Linked DNA regions of Homo sapiens. The protein of the gene in region 1 purifies or fractionates together with the protein of each later gene. This does not show direct contact. Each region holds a gene or a part of one and is shown in the gene's direction. Other genes may lie near its edges. The genes, in order: CCR2 and POTEE.

The links.
Region 2: the proteins of CCR2 (region 1) and POTEE purify together in Homo sapiens (affinity purification with mass spectrometry; 2 studies listed by BioGRID and IntAct, with this or other methods). This does not show direct contact.

What each region holds. Positions count from the first base shown.
Region 1 is NC_000003.12:46,348,853-46,357,205, forward strand, and holds the start of CCR2 (C-C chemokine receptor type 2), read left to right. Parts: upstream 1-5,258; 5' UTR 5,259-5,325; intron 5,326-8,353. UniProt on the Homo sapiens protein: Key functional receptor for CCL2 but can also bind CCL7, and CCL12. Also transduces signaling mediated by CCL13.
Region 2 is NC_000002.12:131,247,177-131,255,596, forward strand, and holds part of POTEE (POTE ankyrin domain family member E), read left to right. Parts: intron 1-3,601; coding exon 3,602-3,672; intron 3,673-5,349; coding exon 5,350-5,394; intron 5,395-5,741; coding exon 5,742-5,923; intron 5,924-8,420.

The sequences.
Region 1 (8,353 bases):
AGTTGGGCTCAACTCCAATCAGTCATGGTAGGTCAGGGTCCATCTCATTGTCTCCATCACTCATGCCCACCCAGGGTAAGTCTAATCATGTTCACCAATCAGAACCTCTGCCACATCAGCTCTGTGGGTTTCCTCTCATGCCATCTGTACCAACAATGAGCACAGTCTGGGTTTCCTGATGTTTTCTATAGCATGGTGCCCCTCCCTGGGACACCTCAGAAGCCACAATGATATTCATTAAACTTCTTCCTGCAAGTACTCCCTCTATTGCTCCTTCTACTCACCAAGCTTAGTGTCAGGGAATATGCTGGTGGGGAGTATGAATCTTAGCTTCTCACTCCCAGACTCGGCTCCCAACCTGCTGTTGCCAAGTCTTGGGGACATCTATAAATGCCTTCTAAATACCTGTCTTGGCCTATCCCCAGCCACAGATTCCTCCCTAGAGCAGGCTACCTCTGAGGCATCTATACTGAGATCTTAATCACAGAGACATTTAAAACATCTAGGCTACAAAAGAATTCCTACTATAGGGTTCAAATGAATTTCTTTCCGTCACTTGAGACAGCTTTTTAGCAAGTACATGTATTAAAGATTCTGATTTCCCCTTTTTTCTCCTACAGTTTGTTTGGCCTAAAGGTATGACATCTAATCTGCTGCATTTACACTCTAAGTCAAAATTACCATTTTGTTCTTTTAATTTCTATTTCTAATCATACATTCTTGTCTACTCCTGGTTCATCTGGAGACAAAGTTGAACTTAGAAGATGGAGGAGAAATTCTTATCTGCCCTCTGCTAGTTGACACTTCCTTTCCAAGAATCATTTGCAGTTGCTGGGCTTTCTTGCTGTGACTCTATGCCCTGTTGTGTTACTTTTTCATTTGTGACAAAAACAGTGGTAATAGTTTGCTTCATTTTTATTATGAAGACTTGACCAGGATAGGTAGGAACATAATTACTGCTTTTTCTGTGGGCATCATATTGGTCCAGATCATGTTTAACCAGAATTGAAGATGTAAAATCCTAGAACTCACTAATCTATTTTAGTAGGTCACAGGAAGCATGCAAACCATAAAAACCGCAATGAACCAAAAGCATCTGTGTTGACAAGAGGCAAGAATTTCTCTATTTTCTAAAGGCACTAACTGAACAAATCTATTGCCCATTACTTAGGAAATTGCTAAGGGCATCGTTAAAGTACTTCAGGCTGTTGAAAAACCTTTTCTGTCTTCTTGCCCCACCACCAATTCTCTCTAGCTATGCTTTCTCTCACATGTTCTTGCCATCCATGGAGTGGCAGAGAGGTTCTGAGTACAACTCTAACTTTCAGTTTCAATGGCCTAATCCCCAACTCAACTGCTGACCTTGAGTGTAAAAATAAACAAGATCTTAAACATCTTAGGGCCAGCATTCTGGGTCTTCTTTTGTTATTTGGGGAGCATAAACTATTCTCATATCATTGGCTTGCAGAAAAATTGAGCTTCTCCTCTTCCTTGCCCCATGTCACCTTGAGGTGACCACAGCCCTGCCTTCTATGTAATCCTGCTTGGTCAGCAGGCACATCAGAGCTCAGTGGCTTGTGACATACTTTCCTTCAAGCCTGCTCGAAGGGCCATACTCATCATTGAGACTGGGAACCTTAGAAACCATGAACCCAGTGCCAATGGGTAGATACAGAATTCTCAAACTCATGAAAAAACATCCTTTTTAACTCTCTCCGTGTGCATAAAGAATTCTAAGATGTACTGATCAAGATTCCCAATTTTCTAACTATCTATTAATATATGGACGAGGTAAGAAGAAAGTTGCAAGAAAAAAATTTGTTTGACTTGACGGTTGTGTGGTTATTTGCCACACTCCCCCAGATCCACTCTGAGTCCCAGGATGCTGATTTTAGGGGCTACATTGCCTAGACTGTCCATTATTCCCTCTTCCCATCTGGTTCAGTCACTGGGAAGCACTGGTAGGAGGTCAGAGTGGGAGAAGGAGGTTAGGATACTTTCTGCCCCTGCTGTCCTACTGCTTTGCTGAACTTCTAGCAGTGGCTGAGCCATCAACCTGCAGCTCTCAATTCCAGCTGTCTGTAGCACTCAAGTGGTATTGTTTATTCTTTTGATCCTTCTAGCTGTTAAGGAAGAAAAAAATAATTTTTTCCTCAATGCTCATAAGTTCTTGGAATGGACCCCTGTAACAAAAGACAGATTAACACGAGAAAAGTTTATTAACGTACATATTTTATACGTACATAGGAGCTATCCAGGGAATGAATAATTCTTAAAAAGGTGACTTTGAATTCCAGCTCATATAGCATCTTCAACAAAGTTCAGTAACATTTTAGAGATATGACAAGACAAAGAAAATGAACTTTGAGCCTCTAGGGACAGTGACTTGTAGGAAGGCAAAAGGAATAAATGGAGGTAAAGGCTGGTTAGTAATACTTGTTAATGAAGATTCCTCTGGTGCCATCTCCAGGTCCACAAGGATTTAAATTTGTCTTCAGTGGTGAACCTTTGTTCACCCTGGCAGAAGGTGTGGAGGGGGGTGCAGATCCGTTTTGTCTTTGTAAGTCTATATCCTGCTTTTAGACAAATAAAGGGAGGGAAAAGAGCTTTCCTTCATCTGCTTCTTAATTGCCTTCAGCTCAACAATCCTTATGCAAAAGAGGTACATTTTAGGGTGTCAAATTCTGGTCTCCCACAAAGCATAGGGATGACAGACCACCTCACCATCCCTGTTGCTTCTTTTAAGCCTGCTCACCCCTCCAAAAATATTTTCATTCTATACTGTCTCTTCAAAATCTCAGCGGAGGGTGCCCTCTGTTATCCTGCCCTCTGTGTCAGTATAAGCCAAAGGTTTGAATCCTGGCTCTGCAACTATCTACCTCTGTGCCTCTCCTTGTTTATGAAATTACAGGGCTGGAGACAAAGATCACAATGTGAAGACAAAATTGGAGAGCGGTCCTAATCAGCCAGAGCAAAATTTCTGGCTCTTGCTCTTCCCCATCCTGGGTTGAATCATAGGAACAGGTGGCAAGATGCCAGGGTCAGGAGATTCCAGAAGTGGCAGCAAGCTCAGTGTTACCAGGTCAGGGATGACCTGTCTTATTATTGAAATCTCAGAGATATGCTCCAATTCCGGCCCAGAGACACATTGAGAGACAACTGGGGAACTTGCTATGTTCCTGAACAGGCAATGAGCTGTCTTCCAAGAAAAAACCTGAGACCCTTCAAGTCTCAGGTCTTACTTAGCACATATACCAGGTCTTACACAGGACACATGGTTACAACTGACTGAAATCTGGGCTGGGTGTAGGAGCTCACACCTGTAATCCCAGCCCTTCAGGAGGCTGAGGCAGGCAGATTGCCTGAGCCCAGGAGTTCGAGACCAGCCCGGGCAACATGACAAAACCCCATCTCTACAAAAAATAGTCAGGCATGGTGGCATGCACCTGTAGTCTCAGCTACTTGGGAGGCTGAGATGAGAGGATTGCTTGAGGTTGAGACTGCAGTGAAGCATGATCATGCCACCGCACTCCAGCCTAGGCAACAGAGCAAGATCTTGTCGCAAAAGAAAGCAAAAACACAACATAACACAACAACAACAACAACAACAACAACAGCAAAAAAGCCAACTTCTTGAAATCTGGAAAGGACACCTGGACTGCCCTGAGCATTTGATTGTTGTTGGCTCTAGCAGTGGATGCATCCTTCAACCTCTGGCACTCTGCAGGGCTCAGACTGTTCTGTTCTGTTTGTTACCTGTGGAGTGCCTGCCAGACCCTGCTCTAGCTGCTTTAGGTCCATTTACCCTCATAGACCCCCAGTCTTGTTATTCATATTTCATATTTGGGAAATGGAAACTTAGAAACTTGCCAAGTCCACAGCATGAGATCCTGCCTCCGGTGTCTGCTGGATTCCAGAAAGTGCCAGGGGCCAACTTAGATGACACCATGTTCTCTGCACAATCTTAGGAATGCTCCTAGTCTGATGTCCCCATTGCAAAATTTACATTATCTTTTAACAAAACGTCTTTCCAAGGAGGGGCATTTAAAATAACTGAGGTTCTTCTTGCTAAGGACGTTCCTGACACAAGAGATAATTTAGCATTTCCTTTTCATTAAAAAGTTTGAAATCCTGTAATTTGTGATAATGTGGATGAACCTAGAGGATGTTAAGTGAAATAAGCCACACACAGATAGACAAATACCACGTGATCTCACTCTTATGTGGAATTTTTTTTTAAATAAGTTGCTTAGCCGGGCATGATGGCACACACCTGTAATCCTAGCTACTCAGGAGGCTGAGGTGGGAGGATGGCTTGAACTCAGAAGGTGGAGGTAGCAGTGAGCTGAGACTGTGCCAGTGCACTCCGGTCTGGGTGACAGAATGAAACCCAATTTAAAAAAAAAAAAAAAGTTGCTATCTTAGAAAAAGACAGTAGAGCAGTGGTTACCAGAGACTGGGGAGGAAAGAGAGGAGGTGAGAATGGGCAGCAGTTGATCAACGGGTACAAAGTTACCATGAGATAGGAGAAACAAGTGCTGGTGCTCTGCTCCAAGTAGGGTGACGGTAGTTAATAATGAATTCTGTATATATAAATAGCTAGAAGAGAGGGTTTTCAATATCATTATTATTTCAAAAGAAATGATAAATGTTTCAGAGGATGGATATGTAATTACCCTGATTTGATCATTGCACAATGTATACATGTAGCAAAACATCACATTGTGTCCCATAAATATATACAATTATTATGTGAATTAAATAAAAAAAAATTTTAAAGTCTTATCTAAATGAAATTTCTAACCAGATTCTGAATCCATGATACCACTGAAACCAGCACACATGATCGCAGTAAAACCTCATTATACTTCCTCCACTATCACCAATACCCTTTATTCTCTGGAACATGAAACATTCTGTTGTGCTCATATCATGCAAATTATCACTAGTAGGAGAGCAGAGAGTGGAAATGTTCCAGGTATAAAGACCCACAAGATAAAGAAGCTCAGAGTCGTTAGAAACAGGAGCAGATGTACAGGGTTTGCCTGACTCACACTCAAGGTTGCATAAGCAAGATTTCAAAATTAATCCTATTCTGGAGACCTCAACCCAATGTACAATGTTCCTGACTGGAAAAGAAGAACTATATTTTTCTGATTTTTTTTTTCAAATCTTTACCATTAGTTGCCCTGTATCTCCGCCTTCACTTTCTGCAGGAAACTTTATTTCCTACTTCTGCATGCCAAGTTTCTACCTCTAGATCTGTTTGGTTCAGTTGCTGAGAAGCCTGACATACCAGGACTGCCTGAGACAAGCCACAAGCTGGTGAGTTGTAGGCATTTTTTCCATTACTTTCTGATTCATAGGCTCAACGCACCTCAAAGCTGGAAATGCCGGGTCTGGGTACACCCTGGGGAACTGCAAAGCCTGCACACTTGGGGGGAATGATCAAGATGAGAGGCAGGGGTGGGGATGGCATGTGCACCAGGAGATGTTAGAGAAACCCTGAGGAAGAGCAGCGTGCAGCAGGTGATGGGGGAGAGTGGGCAGCAAGCGAGGCCAGGACAGCCACTCTGCTCAGTCACCAGTCCACACACCCAGGGGCTCACTCTGCCCCTCTGAGCACCCAAGGACGTTAAAGAGCTGGAACTGTTAGTCTAAATATAGGACCATCCAAGCTCTGAACCAAAATGTGTCCCTTGCCTCAACTCAGGAGATCCACAGAGGCAGAAGTAAGGAATTTATTTTCTGAAAGATAGATTTCTATCAGTTCTGGGTGACATGTTCTGACACTTGAAATGACACCTAGGACAGCACATTTCAGGCATCTTGCTCATTGTTCACTGTAGTAGAAGCTACATGCTAGCCAGTTGTAAAAATGAAATTAAGTAATGTGTGCACAGCATTTAACATAGCATCTGAGCTTCAGGAGCACTCAATTAATGACCACAGTTGTGATTCTTTAGGCAGATGCATTTTTTTCCAACTTTGATCAGAGGTCTTATTTAGCTTCTCCAGATTTCAAGAATCTGGCTCAGTGATATGAAATACAAGACTTGTGAAAAGTGTCAATTGCAAGAGAAATGGAAGGATAAAGTATACAGGTGGGTGGAAAAGAAATTCACAGTCACTGCCAGAAAAAAAATTCTTGAGAATCAAGTCCTGATGATGTTAGGGCTTATAGTTCTTATTATAAAGAGTTTTATGTACTCATTCAGTGAACATTTATTGGTGCCTCCTTTAGCCAGGTACTATCATAAGAGCTGAAAATAGAAGCATAATCCAGTCCTTGATCTTGAGGAACATGCTGTGTGTAGCAGATAACATAATAAGTGCTTATCTAGATGCATGCAGTGTTATGTGATAAGAGTAATATGACAGAGGATACAGATTAGGCTTCACAGAGAAGGGGGATTTGAGCAGGAGGTATTGAAGGGTGAATAGAAGCTCACCAATCATTTTGGGCAGAGGGGCAAGGACCTGCAAAACCACTGAAGCATGAAGGAAATGGTGAGTTTAGGGAAAATGAAGAGAAGATGGCTGTGACTGAAGCACAGGATTTGGGATTGGAGAAGGGACTGGAGGTGAGGCTGAAAAGAGGCAAACTCAGAAAAGATGTTGTGCTGGGCAGTCTGGACATTATCTTTGAAGCCCACCACATATAAGTCATAGGGCTACTGGAGGTTTTAAGCTAAGAGTGACTATTCAATTTCAACTTAAGAGAAGATAGGTTGAGAGGGAACATGGCTTGAGATGAGCCATGAGCAAAGGAAAGACTACAACAAAGCCAGGAGTGAGGAGTGTGTGAAGCAAGAAAGTGACAGTTGAAAGCAGTGCAGAGGGGATGAATCTGAGAGGCATCTATGAGGTGGAACTCAAATGACATGATAATAATACAGGGCATTTCTCTGTGTCAGATGCTGTCCTAAGTCCTTACTCCATTGATCTTCACAGCAACTCAGCATAGTTAATATTTTATGCATAAAGAAATCGGCACTTGAAGGAGTAATTGGCCCCAGATTACACTGCCTATAAGGATTCAAATCCAGGTTTGTTTGGCTCCAAAAACTGGCTCCTAATTTTCAGAAGGAGAAGCAACCCAGGGCAATGCCCAATTTTGCTTCTTAGGCAATGGAGGAATCCACAATCGGAAGGAGTTTTCAGCAGTGCCCCATTTGGGGTGGGTTGAATTTGAGGTCCCTGCATGATACCCACTTTGCTCACTTCAGTGCCTAAAACTGAGTATGGTTCATAGTAGGTGTTCAATAAGTGTTGATGCAGTGAATACATGCATGGGGAGATATGCATCAGGCAATGGGAAATTCAACTCTAAGGCTTAGGGGAAAGCTGGAGCTTGAAGACAGAGCTTTAGAAAACAGTAGCATAGAAGGGAGTAGGAACCATGAGTTTAGACAATACAATTCAGGAAGAACTTTGTAGCAAGGATAAAGAGGCAAAAAATTAAAGAGGTGAGAGCTAAGTGTGGTGCCTGGGGAATCTTAAGGTGTGGGCACGGGGAGGAGATGCCAGCAAAGAACATGAATAAAAAGCGGTAGCACAGCCCCTCCCATCTGGAAGCCAAAAAGAATTGTAAATGGAGGAAGTTAGCAGAAGGATCAAATACTTGAAGAGGGTGGAATTGGAATAAAACCAGGGCATTTGAAAAATTGGGTTGTCACTGCAATCTTAACAAGAGAAGTTTTGGCAGGATGATGGAGGCAGAAAGCTGAGAGAATCATCAGTTAGAACGTTTTTGACTTCAGAGAACAGAAAATGCAGTTCATAATGGCTTTAAAACAGGGGCTTGTTTTTCTCCCAGCAATTTGAGAGGCCAAGGCGGGTGCATCAGGAGGTCAAGAGACCGAGACCATCCTGGCCAACATGGTGAATCCCCATCTCTACTAAAAATACAAAAATTAGCGGGGCATGGTGGTGCACGCCTATAGTCCCATCTACTCAGGAGGCTGAGGCAGGAGAATCACTTGAACCCAGGAGGTGGAGGTTGCAGTGAGCTGAGATCATGGCCACTGCACTATAGCCTGGAGACACAGCGAGACTCCGTCTCCAAAAAAAAAAAAAAAAGAAGGCAGAAGGTGAATAGTTCAAGGGTGGGTTTAGGACTCAGTGATAATAGGATTCTGCCTGGCTTCTCATGGTTCTCTAGGTCTTCCATTCATGGCACCATGCCCTCACTAGGCATGCTGCCAGAGCAGGAGGGGCAGGTGGAGGGTTCTCTTGTGTCTGTCTTATCAGGGAAGAAGAGCTTTCTCAGAAGCCCCCAGCAGACTCCCTTTTCATATTATGGTCCAGCAATGAGTCACAGACCTATGCACCACCTGCAAAGGAGCCAGAG
Region 2 (8,420 bases), on another chromosome or scaffold:
AGGTCTTTTCCTGTGGGCCATGGGAAATTTACCAGGTAGAATGCTTTGGACTGCAAATACTAGATGAGCAGTGCCTAAAACACTAGGAACCAGAGTTGTTTTTTTGTTCATTGATATCCTAGGGATCCCACTTGTCCCTCTTTCAGCTGTGCTGTTGACAGTGTTTTATTCACGTCTCCTTTTGTGGTTGGCTAATCTGCAGCAGCTCCAAACATCTTGTTTTCACAACACAACATCGAAAGGGCTGCTTTTCTTCACATGTGTCTTTTAAACAGGGAGAAAACTTAGAAGCATGCAAGGGGCTTCCTGTAACATTTCATTGGCTGGGTCATACCACATGCTCATTCCCAAACCAGGCACTGGGAAGGTAAATATCTGATTAGCTTAGAATAAACATTTCTTTCTGAGGCTGAGGAGGGGGATTGGGATATTAAATATCCCAATAGACTTATGTTTTTTCTGCCAGAAAGAATGAGGAATGGCTATTGATAGGGAGCCAACAATGTGTGCTGGAGGGGGCTCATTGGAGAAATTTGAGCAGGGGAGCCACAAGATTAAATTTGAGTATTAAGGCATTCTGGTTATGGTGTAAAATGGGTTAGCAAGCTTTTTCTTTAAAGGACCAGGTGGGAAATATTTTGGACTATGTGGTCTCTGTCATATCTACTTAACCGTGCTGTTGTCTGCTGTTGTAGTGTGAAAGCCACCATGATTATATGTAAGCAAACAGGCATGACTGAGCTCCTATAAAACTTTATTTACAAAACCATAATGCAGATTGGATTTGGCCTGTGGCCTATAGTTTCCTGGGATTGATGGGAGATAATCATGCAAAGAAACCAGGAGACAAAGGAAGCTTTTGCAGTAGTCAGCTATAGTTTCCATGTCACACATCCTTGGAGTAGCATCAATGTATTACAAGGTTTTCACCCGTCCATGGTGAAATAAATAACGTTAGAAATCTCAGTTACTCATTTTACTATGTTGGCCTTCGTTATGCCCTTTTCACTTGTTTTGCTTAATTTTTTTTCCTGTAAGAAATAACATTAATAGTTGGCAGTTTTCTTTTAAATAGAAGTCATTTTGTAAATGTTTGTGTTCCCAGTGGCAGTGGGAATATAAAACAGAGGCAGAAGAGAGGTATAGTCAATATGATTTAGTGATAATTGAATGAGAAAGGCTTGGGGGACAGAGAGAAATCTCAGATGATGTACAGGTTTCCAGATTGCACACTAGTATTTAACCTGGACATGAGGAAGGAGTAGGAAATTTTCTGGTGAATACAGAAGAGCAAAGAGCAGCAGGTCAGCAGGAATGACTAATGTTTTTCGATGCATGTTTAATGGAATATTCGTGTAGGGTATTTTGAGTAGGTAATTGGATAATCAGCATTTATAACTCGCATCCTACTAGTTTGACTCTAAGTAATAAGACTTGTCAAAGATCCAAGAATCTGAAAGTCAGTAATAAATGTCCATGTGCATCATCGTCCGTGACAGAAAGTCAGCATCCACAGAACACAGAATTGGGACAGATGAACTTAATAGATAAAGATGAATATCGGAGTTGTTCCTCTTAGGGAATGATACTCTCCATGACCTGTGTGAGTCACAGCTGCCAGAAAAGAAAGAGCAAGGAGCGTATGAAGGCAGCACAGCAAATTCGGTCCTAGAGTGCCCTGCTTGGCTTCATGTCATAGTTCTGACTTCTAAATAATCATTTTCTGCAAAATGTGCTTTGTGTTTTTCCCTCTTGCCGCCTGCAGCCAATCAGAATCTTTTTAGCAGGACATAATGAAAAGAAGTAAGAGAAAGAGTGTTTTTTTGTAATGGGATAGTATTTAACGTAAACTTGAGAGTGAGTACCAGGATTATACTTAGAATTTATGGACTGGATGGGAAGACTGGATAGAAATCTAAAGATTGCTGACTCAAACACAATGTGGTTTCTTTGATTTATTTTCACAGCTCTGAATTCACGACTGTTAATTGTATTCATATGCATTATAACTTTACAAAGCATCTTCCGAAACCAAATATTTACTGATTTATTATAATTTGTATGACTTTATTATAGAACTGACTTTCCAAGTGTTCATGAGAATTGTTTAGAATTTGCTACATTGTATCATCTCAGCTGTGTCCACATGAGCTATCTGTCACCTTGTCTTAATGAATAATTGTTCACTAGGAATATTGGTTTTGGCATTGAAATGATCTATATCTAAATGCAGATAGGACCCGGGACCACTTTTGAACATTAATGTTCAAGCATCTTAAAATTACACATAATGCTTTCATAATCTGACTTCTGCCCCACTCTCCATCTTTAGCCCTTTTCCCTGTGTGCCCTGTCTCTGGCATTACTGAACTGCTGGCAGTGCCCTACTCACTCATCCTTCTATTGTAGGCAAATACTTTCACTCTTTCAGGAGTCGCTCCCGCTCTTGCTGCTGCGTGGCATGCCGTCACCCTTTCCTGCCCTCTACACCTTTTAATCTGGCTAGTCTCAATATTTAAGTCTCTGCTTGGGCATGTGTTCTAGAAAAGCCATCTCTGACATGCTTTATTTTAATTCTTTTTAAACCCTAATGCCTAGCATGTATTTAGCAGGACTCAATAAAATATTTCTGAGTAAAACAAAGACTGTTTTTACAAAGATGATGTGCAAGACTCTCCCCTGCAGTCTTGGAGCAGAGGGGACAGACGTGGAGGAATAATGTACAGTTTAGGTGGTCAAGATGCAGTAGAAAAATCAGTAAAGTACTAAGGCAGCCTCAAGGAAGGAGGTACCTGTTTATTTGGGGAAAGACATGCAGAATCAAGGAAAACTTCATATAGCATTGTTTCAAAAGATGAAAATAAGGCCAGGTGTGGTGGCTCACACCTGTAATCCCAGCACTTTCAGAGGGAATCACGAGGTCAGGAGATCGAGACCATCCTGTCCAATGGTGAAACCCCATCTCTACTAAAAATACAAAAATCAGCTGGGTGTGGTGGTGCTTGCCTGTAATCACAGTTACTCAGGAGACTGAAGCAGGAGAATCACTTGAACCAGGGTCGCGGAGGTTGCAGTGAGCTGATCACACCACTGCATTCCAGCCTGGTGACAGAGGAAGACTCTAGCTCATAAAAAAAAAAAAAGAAAAAAGAAAAAAAGAAAATAAATTTGTCAGAATAGTGGAGAGAAACATTTTAGATATTAGGAAGATGTTGTACACTAATAAAGGTGTCAGCAGTGATTTTGGAAATCATTTATAAGGTACTATTAGGAAGTGGAGAACAGTACACTGTGTCACCTTATATGTTTCTACTGTATTTTAAAGCTGTGTTTCTGGTGGTTTTGTTCATGGATGTTGGGTGGATGAATTTGTGAGGGAATTTTTGACATGTTTGTTTGTCTTCAATCTGGTGACATCTGCTATCTCCCCAAGTGGGTTTTTGAAGTTTTTGAGAATTATTTCTTAAATGACAATTTCACAAAAGATGAAACACTCAATTTATGAAATAAAATGAAATGTCTCAAATCTGTTTTTAAAAGGCAATAGTTTTTAACTGTTTTAAGTGGTTGATTTTAACTGAATGTATGGATTTTTCAACAGAACAAGACTTAAAGCTGACATCAGAGGAAGAGTCACAAAGGCTTAAAGGCAGTGAAAATGGCCAGCCAGAGGCATGGAAACTTTTAAATTTAAACTTTTGTTTAATGTTGTGTTTTTTTTGCCTTAATAATATTAGATAGTCCAAATGAAATTACCTTTCAGACTAGGCTTTGAGAATCAGTAGATTGTTTTTTTAAGAATCTTTTGGCCAGGCAAGGTGGCTCACGCCTGTAATCCCAGCACTTTGAGAGGCTGAGGCAGGTGGATCACGAGGTCTGGAGATCGAGACCATCCTGGCTAACATGGTGAAACCCCGTCTCTAGTAAAAATACAAAAACTTAGCTGGGCGTGGTGGTGGGTGCCTGTAGTCCCAGCTACTCGGGAGGCTGAGGCAGGAGAATGGCATGAACCCAGGAGAGGGAGCTTGCAGTGAGCCGACATCCACCACTACACTCCAGCCTGGGTGACAGAGCGAGACTCCATGTGAAAAAAAAAAAAAAAAATTTTAATAGATTCTTAAAATTTATTGTAATAAAATCAGCAACCTTATTAACAGAAGAATCAATAGATTCTAATTTAATATTTGATATTTAACTTCAACATAACCCACTATAAAATTTAAAATACTCTTATTTTAAAATATTCTTATCTGCCTTCTTGATTAGCTTATAGCTAATCTCTCCTTTTGGAATAGAGGCAAAAACAAATTTCAGAACTTTGTTTGTTCTTTTATTTTTACAACACCCTAACATGATAAAGAAAGTAACATCAATGATTGAATCATATTATTAAGCAATAGGAATTATGAACAATGTAACACTGATTCCCTGAGCTGGATTCATGGTTAAAGAGTAATCATGGCCTGTGATTGAAAATCCACAGTTTTATATTGTCAGTCACTGATACCAAGGTTAAGGACATATCCTGCCTTGTGGTCTCTCGTTGACCTCAGTGTTTCTGTTCAGGGAGGGAACCAGGTCATAAAAGCAACCCAACTGCCTATTACAAGAACCATATCTTGCAGAATGGGACCTTTGGTGTTAGTGCACAAACACAATAACATTCTAATTTATTTCAGTTGCAGAAAATCAGTAGAGATTAAAAAATTTTATCTGCTGTCATTAGTACACATTAGAATATATTAGAACTGGACTTACGCAGATAATCTGGATACATAACACTATCATATGACAGTATATAATTTCAATTAAAATGTGAGAATTTGCATTTCTTTCTGTTTGGTGTTGATTTCGGCTCCTAATAGTTTAAAGGGTGCCTACAATCCAGTTAGGAATCTTTTAAAAAAGCACTTCAGTGCACTGTAGGTGCTCACTAGTTAGGGTTTCATGAGGTAAACTCTTTTCAAGTGAGGAAGATTTTGGAACACTACAAATCATCTGCTGATTCATTTTTGGTAGATTTAACACATAACAAATTAAATTTAGTCCAAACAAATAGTGAGAAAGTTAAGTTTGCTGGTTCATGTTTTTCTTCTCCCTTTGTCTAAGGTGAATTATTTTTCACATGTTAGAAGCCAGTGATGTGGCAGTAGCTAAACATAGATTAAAAAGTTAATTCTTAATTTTAATTATTATTTATTTTAACAGTTTAATTTTAATTACTTTCTAATTTTTATTGTCCATACTTGATTACTTCAGAATAAAATTATTTTAAAAACATGCACTCCAAAAGAGGAAATGTCACAGAAATACAGCAAGCAAATTAACCTTCTGTTTTTACATCTGCAGAAAAGATCTCAAGAACCAGAAATAAATAAGGATGGTGATAGAGAGGTATACCTTTATATTCAAACGTTTGTGTTGAATTAGATTTTTACATTATGTTGTTTAACAAAGTGTAGTAAATGTAGGCATACATGATCCTATCATGTAAGTAGCATAAATCATCAGTGAAAAATTAAATAGTTAACTCAGAATTCTGTACATTGAATTTTGAAGAGGTGCAAACCCTAGAGCTATTCTTTCATTATTATGGAATAATCCCGAATGGTGCCATAAAATGCTAGGTAATGCCACTTTAGGAGCTTTAGACCAATTATTTTATCTTTCTTGGTTTTAGTCTGATTATCAATAGATAATGTGCCTAAAGTAGATAATTTCTTATTCTCTGTATTTTCCAGCTAGAAAATTTTATGGCTATCGAAGAAATGAAGAAGCACGGAAGTACTCATGTCGGATTCCCAGAAAACCTGACTAATGGTGCCACTGCTGGCAATGGTGATGATGGATTAATTCCTCCAAGGAAGAGCAGAACACCTGAAAGCCAGCAATTTCCTGACACTGAGAATGAAGAGTATCACAGGTAAGCCTATGGCAACATTGAACAGGAGGTAACTTTGTGCTGCCAAACTAATCCTAATTTGAGCTAATATTCATGATGAACAAATTTTATACTTTTATTAGGATATTGAGCCTTGCCTGTTAATCAGAAAAATGAAAATCAGCAAACAATCAGTTACCGTTTTTTTTCCAGTCATTAATTTATTTGAAAAATAACCAGTATTGGCAAATGTGAGGGAAAAGGCATTTTCTTCTCTTTTCAGTGAACTTTTATTTTAGCTTCGGGGTACGTGTGCAGGTTTATTATATAGGTAAACTGTATCATGGAGGCTTGGGGTACAGATTATTTCACCAGCCACATAGTAAACAAAATACTCGAAAGGTAGTTTTTTGGTCGTCTCCCTCCTGCCATGCTCCTCCCTCAAGTAGGCCCCAGTGTATGTTATTCTCCTCTTTGTGTCCATGAGTTCTCATGTTTAGTTCCCGCTAATGAGTAAGAATATGTGGCATTTGATTTTCTGTTCCTGCATGAGTTTTCTTAGGATAATGGCCTCCAGCTCCATCCGTGTTGCTGCAGGGGAAATGGTTTCATTGAAAAAGACATTTCATATACTGTTGGTAAATACATTTTGAACATTAATTGAGTAGCATATTCACACACACATATATAACAGTAAGCATATATAATACATGTAAAGGATATTTGTATAGATATGTTATATGTATACTTATGTATAAGGACATTTATTATAGTATTATGTAAAAAATTTGGAGCTAGTCTAATTCCTTATCAATAGGAAATAGCTCAATTTCCATATCCCCAAAATAATGTATTATGCAACCATTTTTAAAAAATGAGGTTAGATGTAGGGTATACTGATTATTTCACAATTAAAATGTATTTAAAGCGTTTAGTTTGATGACACATCTTAAGAGTTCTTGTTAAAATTCTTGTAATATCTGCTGTGTTGCAAATGGAAGCTACATGCTACATTGACACTGTACCTTGTTAGCAACAAGATTGCTAGTTACTAAATTTTTGTTGTCAGTGCCTGAGTGCTGAAATATTGGACCCTCAATCTGAATATTGCCAAGCGATTGTACATGGGGATCTATATTTAATATAAACATTTCAGTATATTTGGTAAAACTTTTATTAAAATACATCAAAGAATCTTTGATCTACTAAACCAGGAGTTGGCCAGCTTTTTCTGCAAAGAGCTAGTTAGTAAATATTTTAGGCTTTGTGGACTACATATATTGATTTTCTTGAGACAGGGTCTCACTCTGTTTCCCAGGCTGGAGTGCAGTTGTGTGATCATGGCTGACTGCAGCCTCGACTTTCTGGGCTCTAGTGATCCTCTGACCTCAGTCTCTACTAGCTGAGACCACGGGTGTGCAACATCACACCCAGCTAACTGACACTATGGACTGTAAAGTGAATAAGCATGGCTGTGTTCCAAGATACTTGACTTACAAAAACGGGCAGTGGGCTGGATTTGGCCCACAGGTGCTTATTTGCTGACCCTTGTGCTAAAAGGAAGGTGCTGCTAATGCAGTGACTTTTATTTGTAAAAGTGCCCTGCATGTGTGACATTATCCTCCCTTTGAGAAAAGGATATATTTCAGTATTCACCTCACCATATTTTTCCAGTGACTTCATATGATTTGGAAAACTACATTTATAAAATAAGATTATTTTCTGCATTTCTCCCACTTTATTCCTGTTAATAGAACTCAGTATTTTACTGTGATCAATTACTTCGTATATTTGATGAGTGTCAACTGTCCTAGAATTGGCTGATTTTTATCAAGCAAGAAATATTCTCCTTGAGAGTTTTAGTATTTCTTGGTCTTTATGTATAAGCATGAACAAAATGATAATCAGCTTATGTAATCTAGAAATGTTCAAAGGGCCTTTAAAACCTTGGTCTGACATTTCTAAATGCCATATGTGTATAATTTTTATAACCTTTAGAATATATAATGGTTACATAAAATTTGAAAACTCCACCTGGTATGTAAAATTTGGAAGCTACTATTTCTTGTCTATCACTTTTCCATGACTGTGGATGAAAATTACATCATTCTCAGTCATGAGCGTTAAGTATATTGTCCTTAAAGAACTGTCTACACTCATGAACTCAAATTTTCTTTCCATTCACTCTTGATCTCAATGCCGGTAAGTCTTCAATTTCAGCACTCCTCCAGAACTATTTTTCCTCAAGATTATCACTAATTTTTTTCTGTACTAAATCTAGGCATTTTTCTTACACCTCATTTAATCTGTCAGCAATATTTGAGCCAATGGAGGGCATCTCCTCCCTAATGGCGTCTTCACTTGGCTTTCAGGACCTCACTCCCTCAGGCTTTTCCTCCTGCCTTTCTAGTCCGTTTATCATGGTCTGTTTTGCTTGCTGCTCCTCATCTTTCTCCTTTTGGACATTGTTGTTTCTCATGGCTCAGTCCTCAATCTTCTTTCTCATAGTTTTTTTTTTTTTTTTTTTTTTAAGACAGAG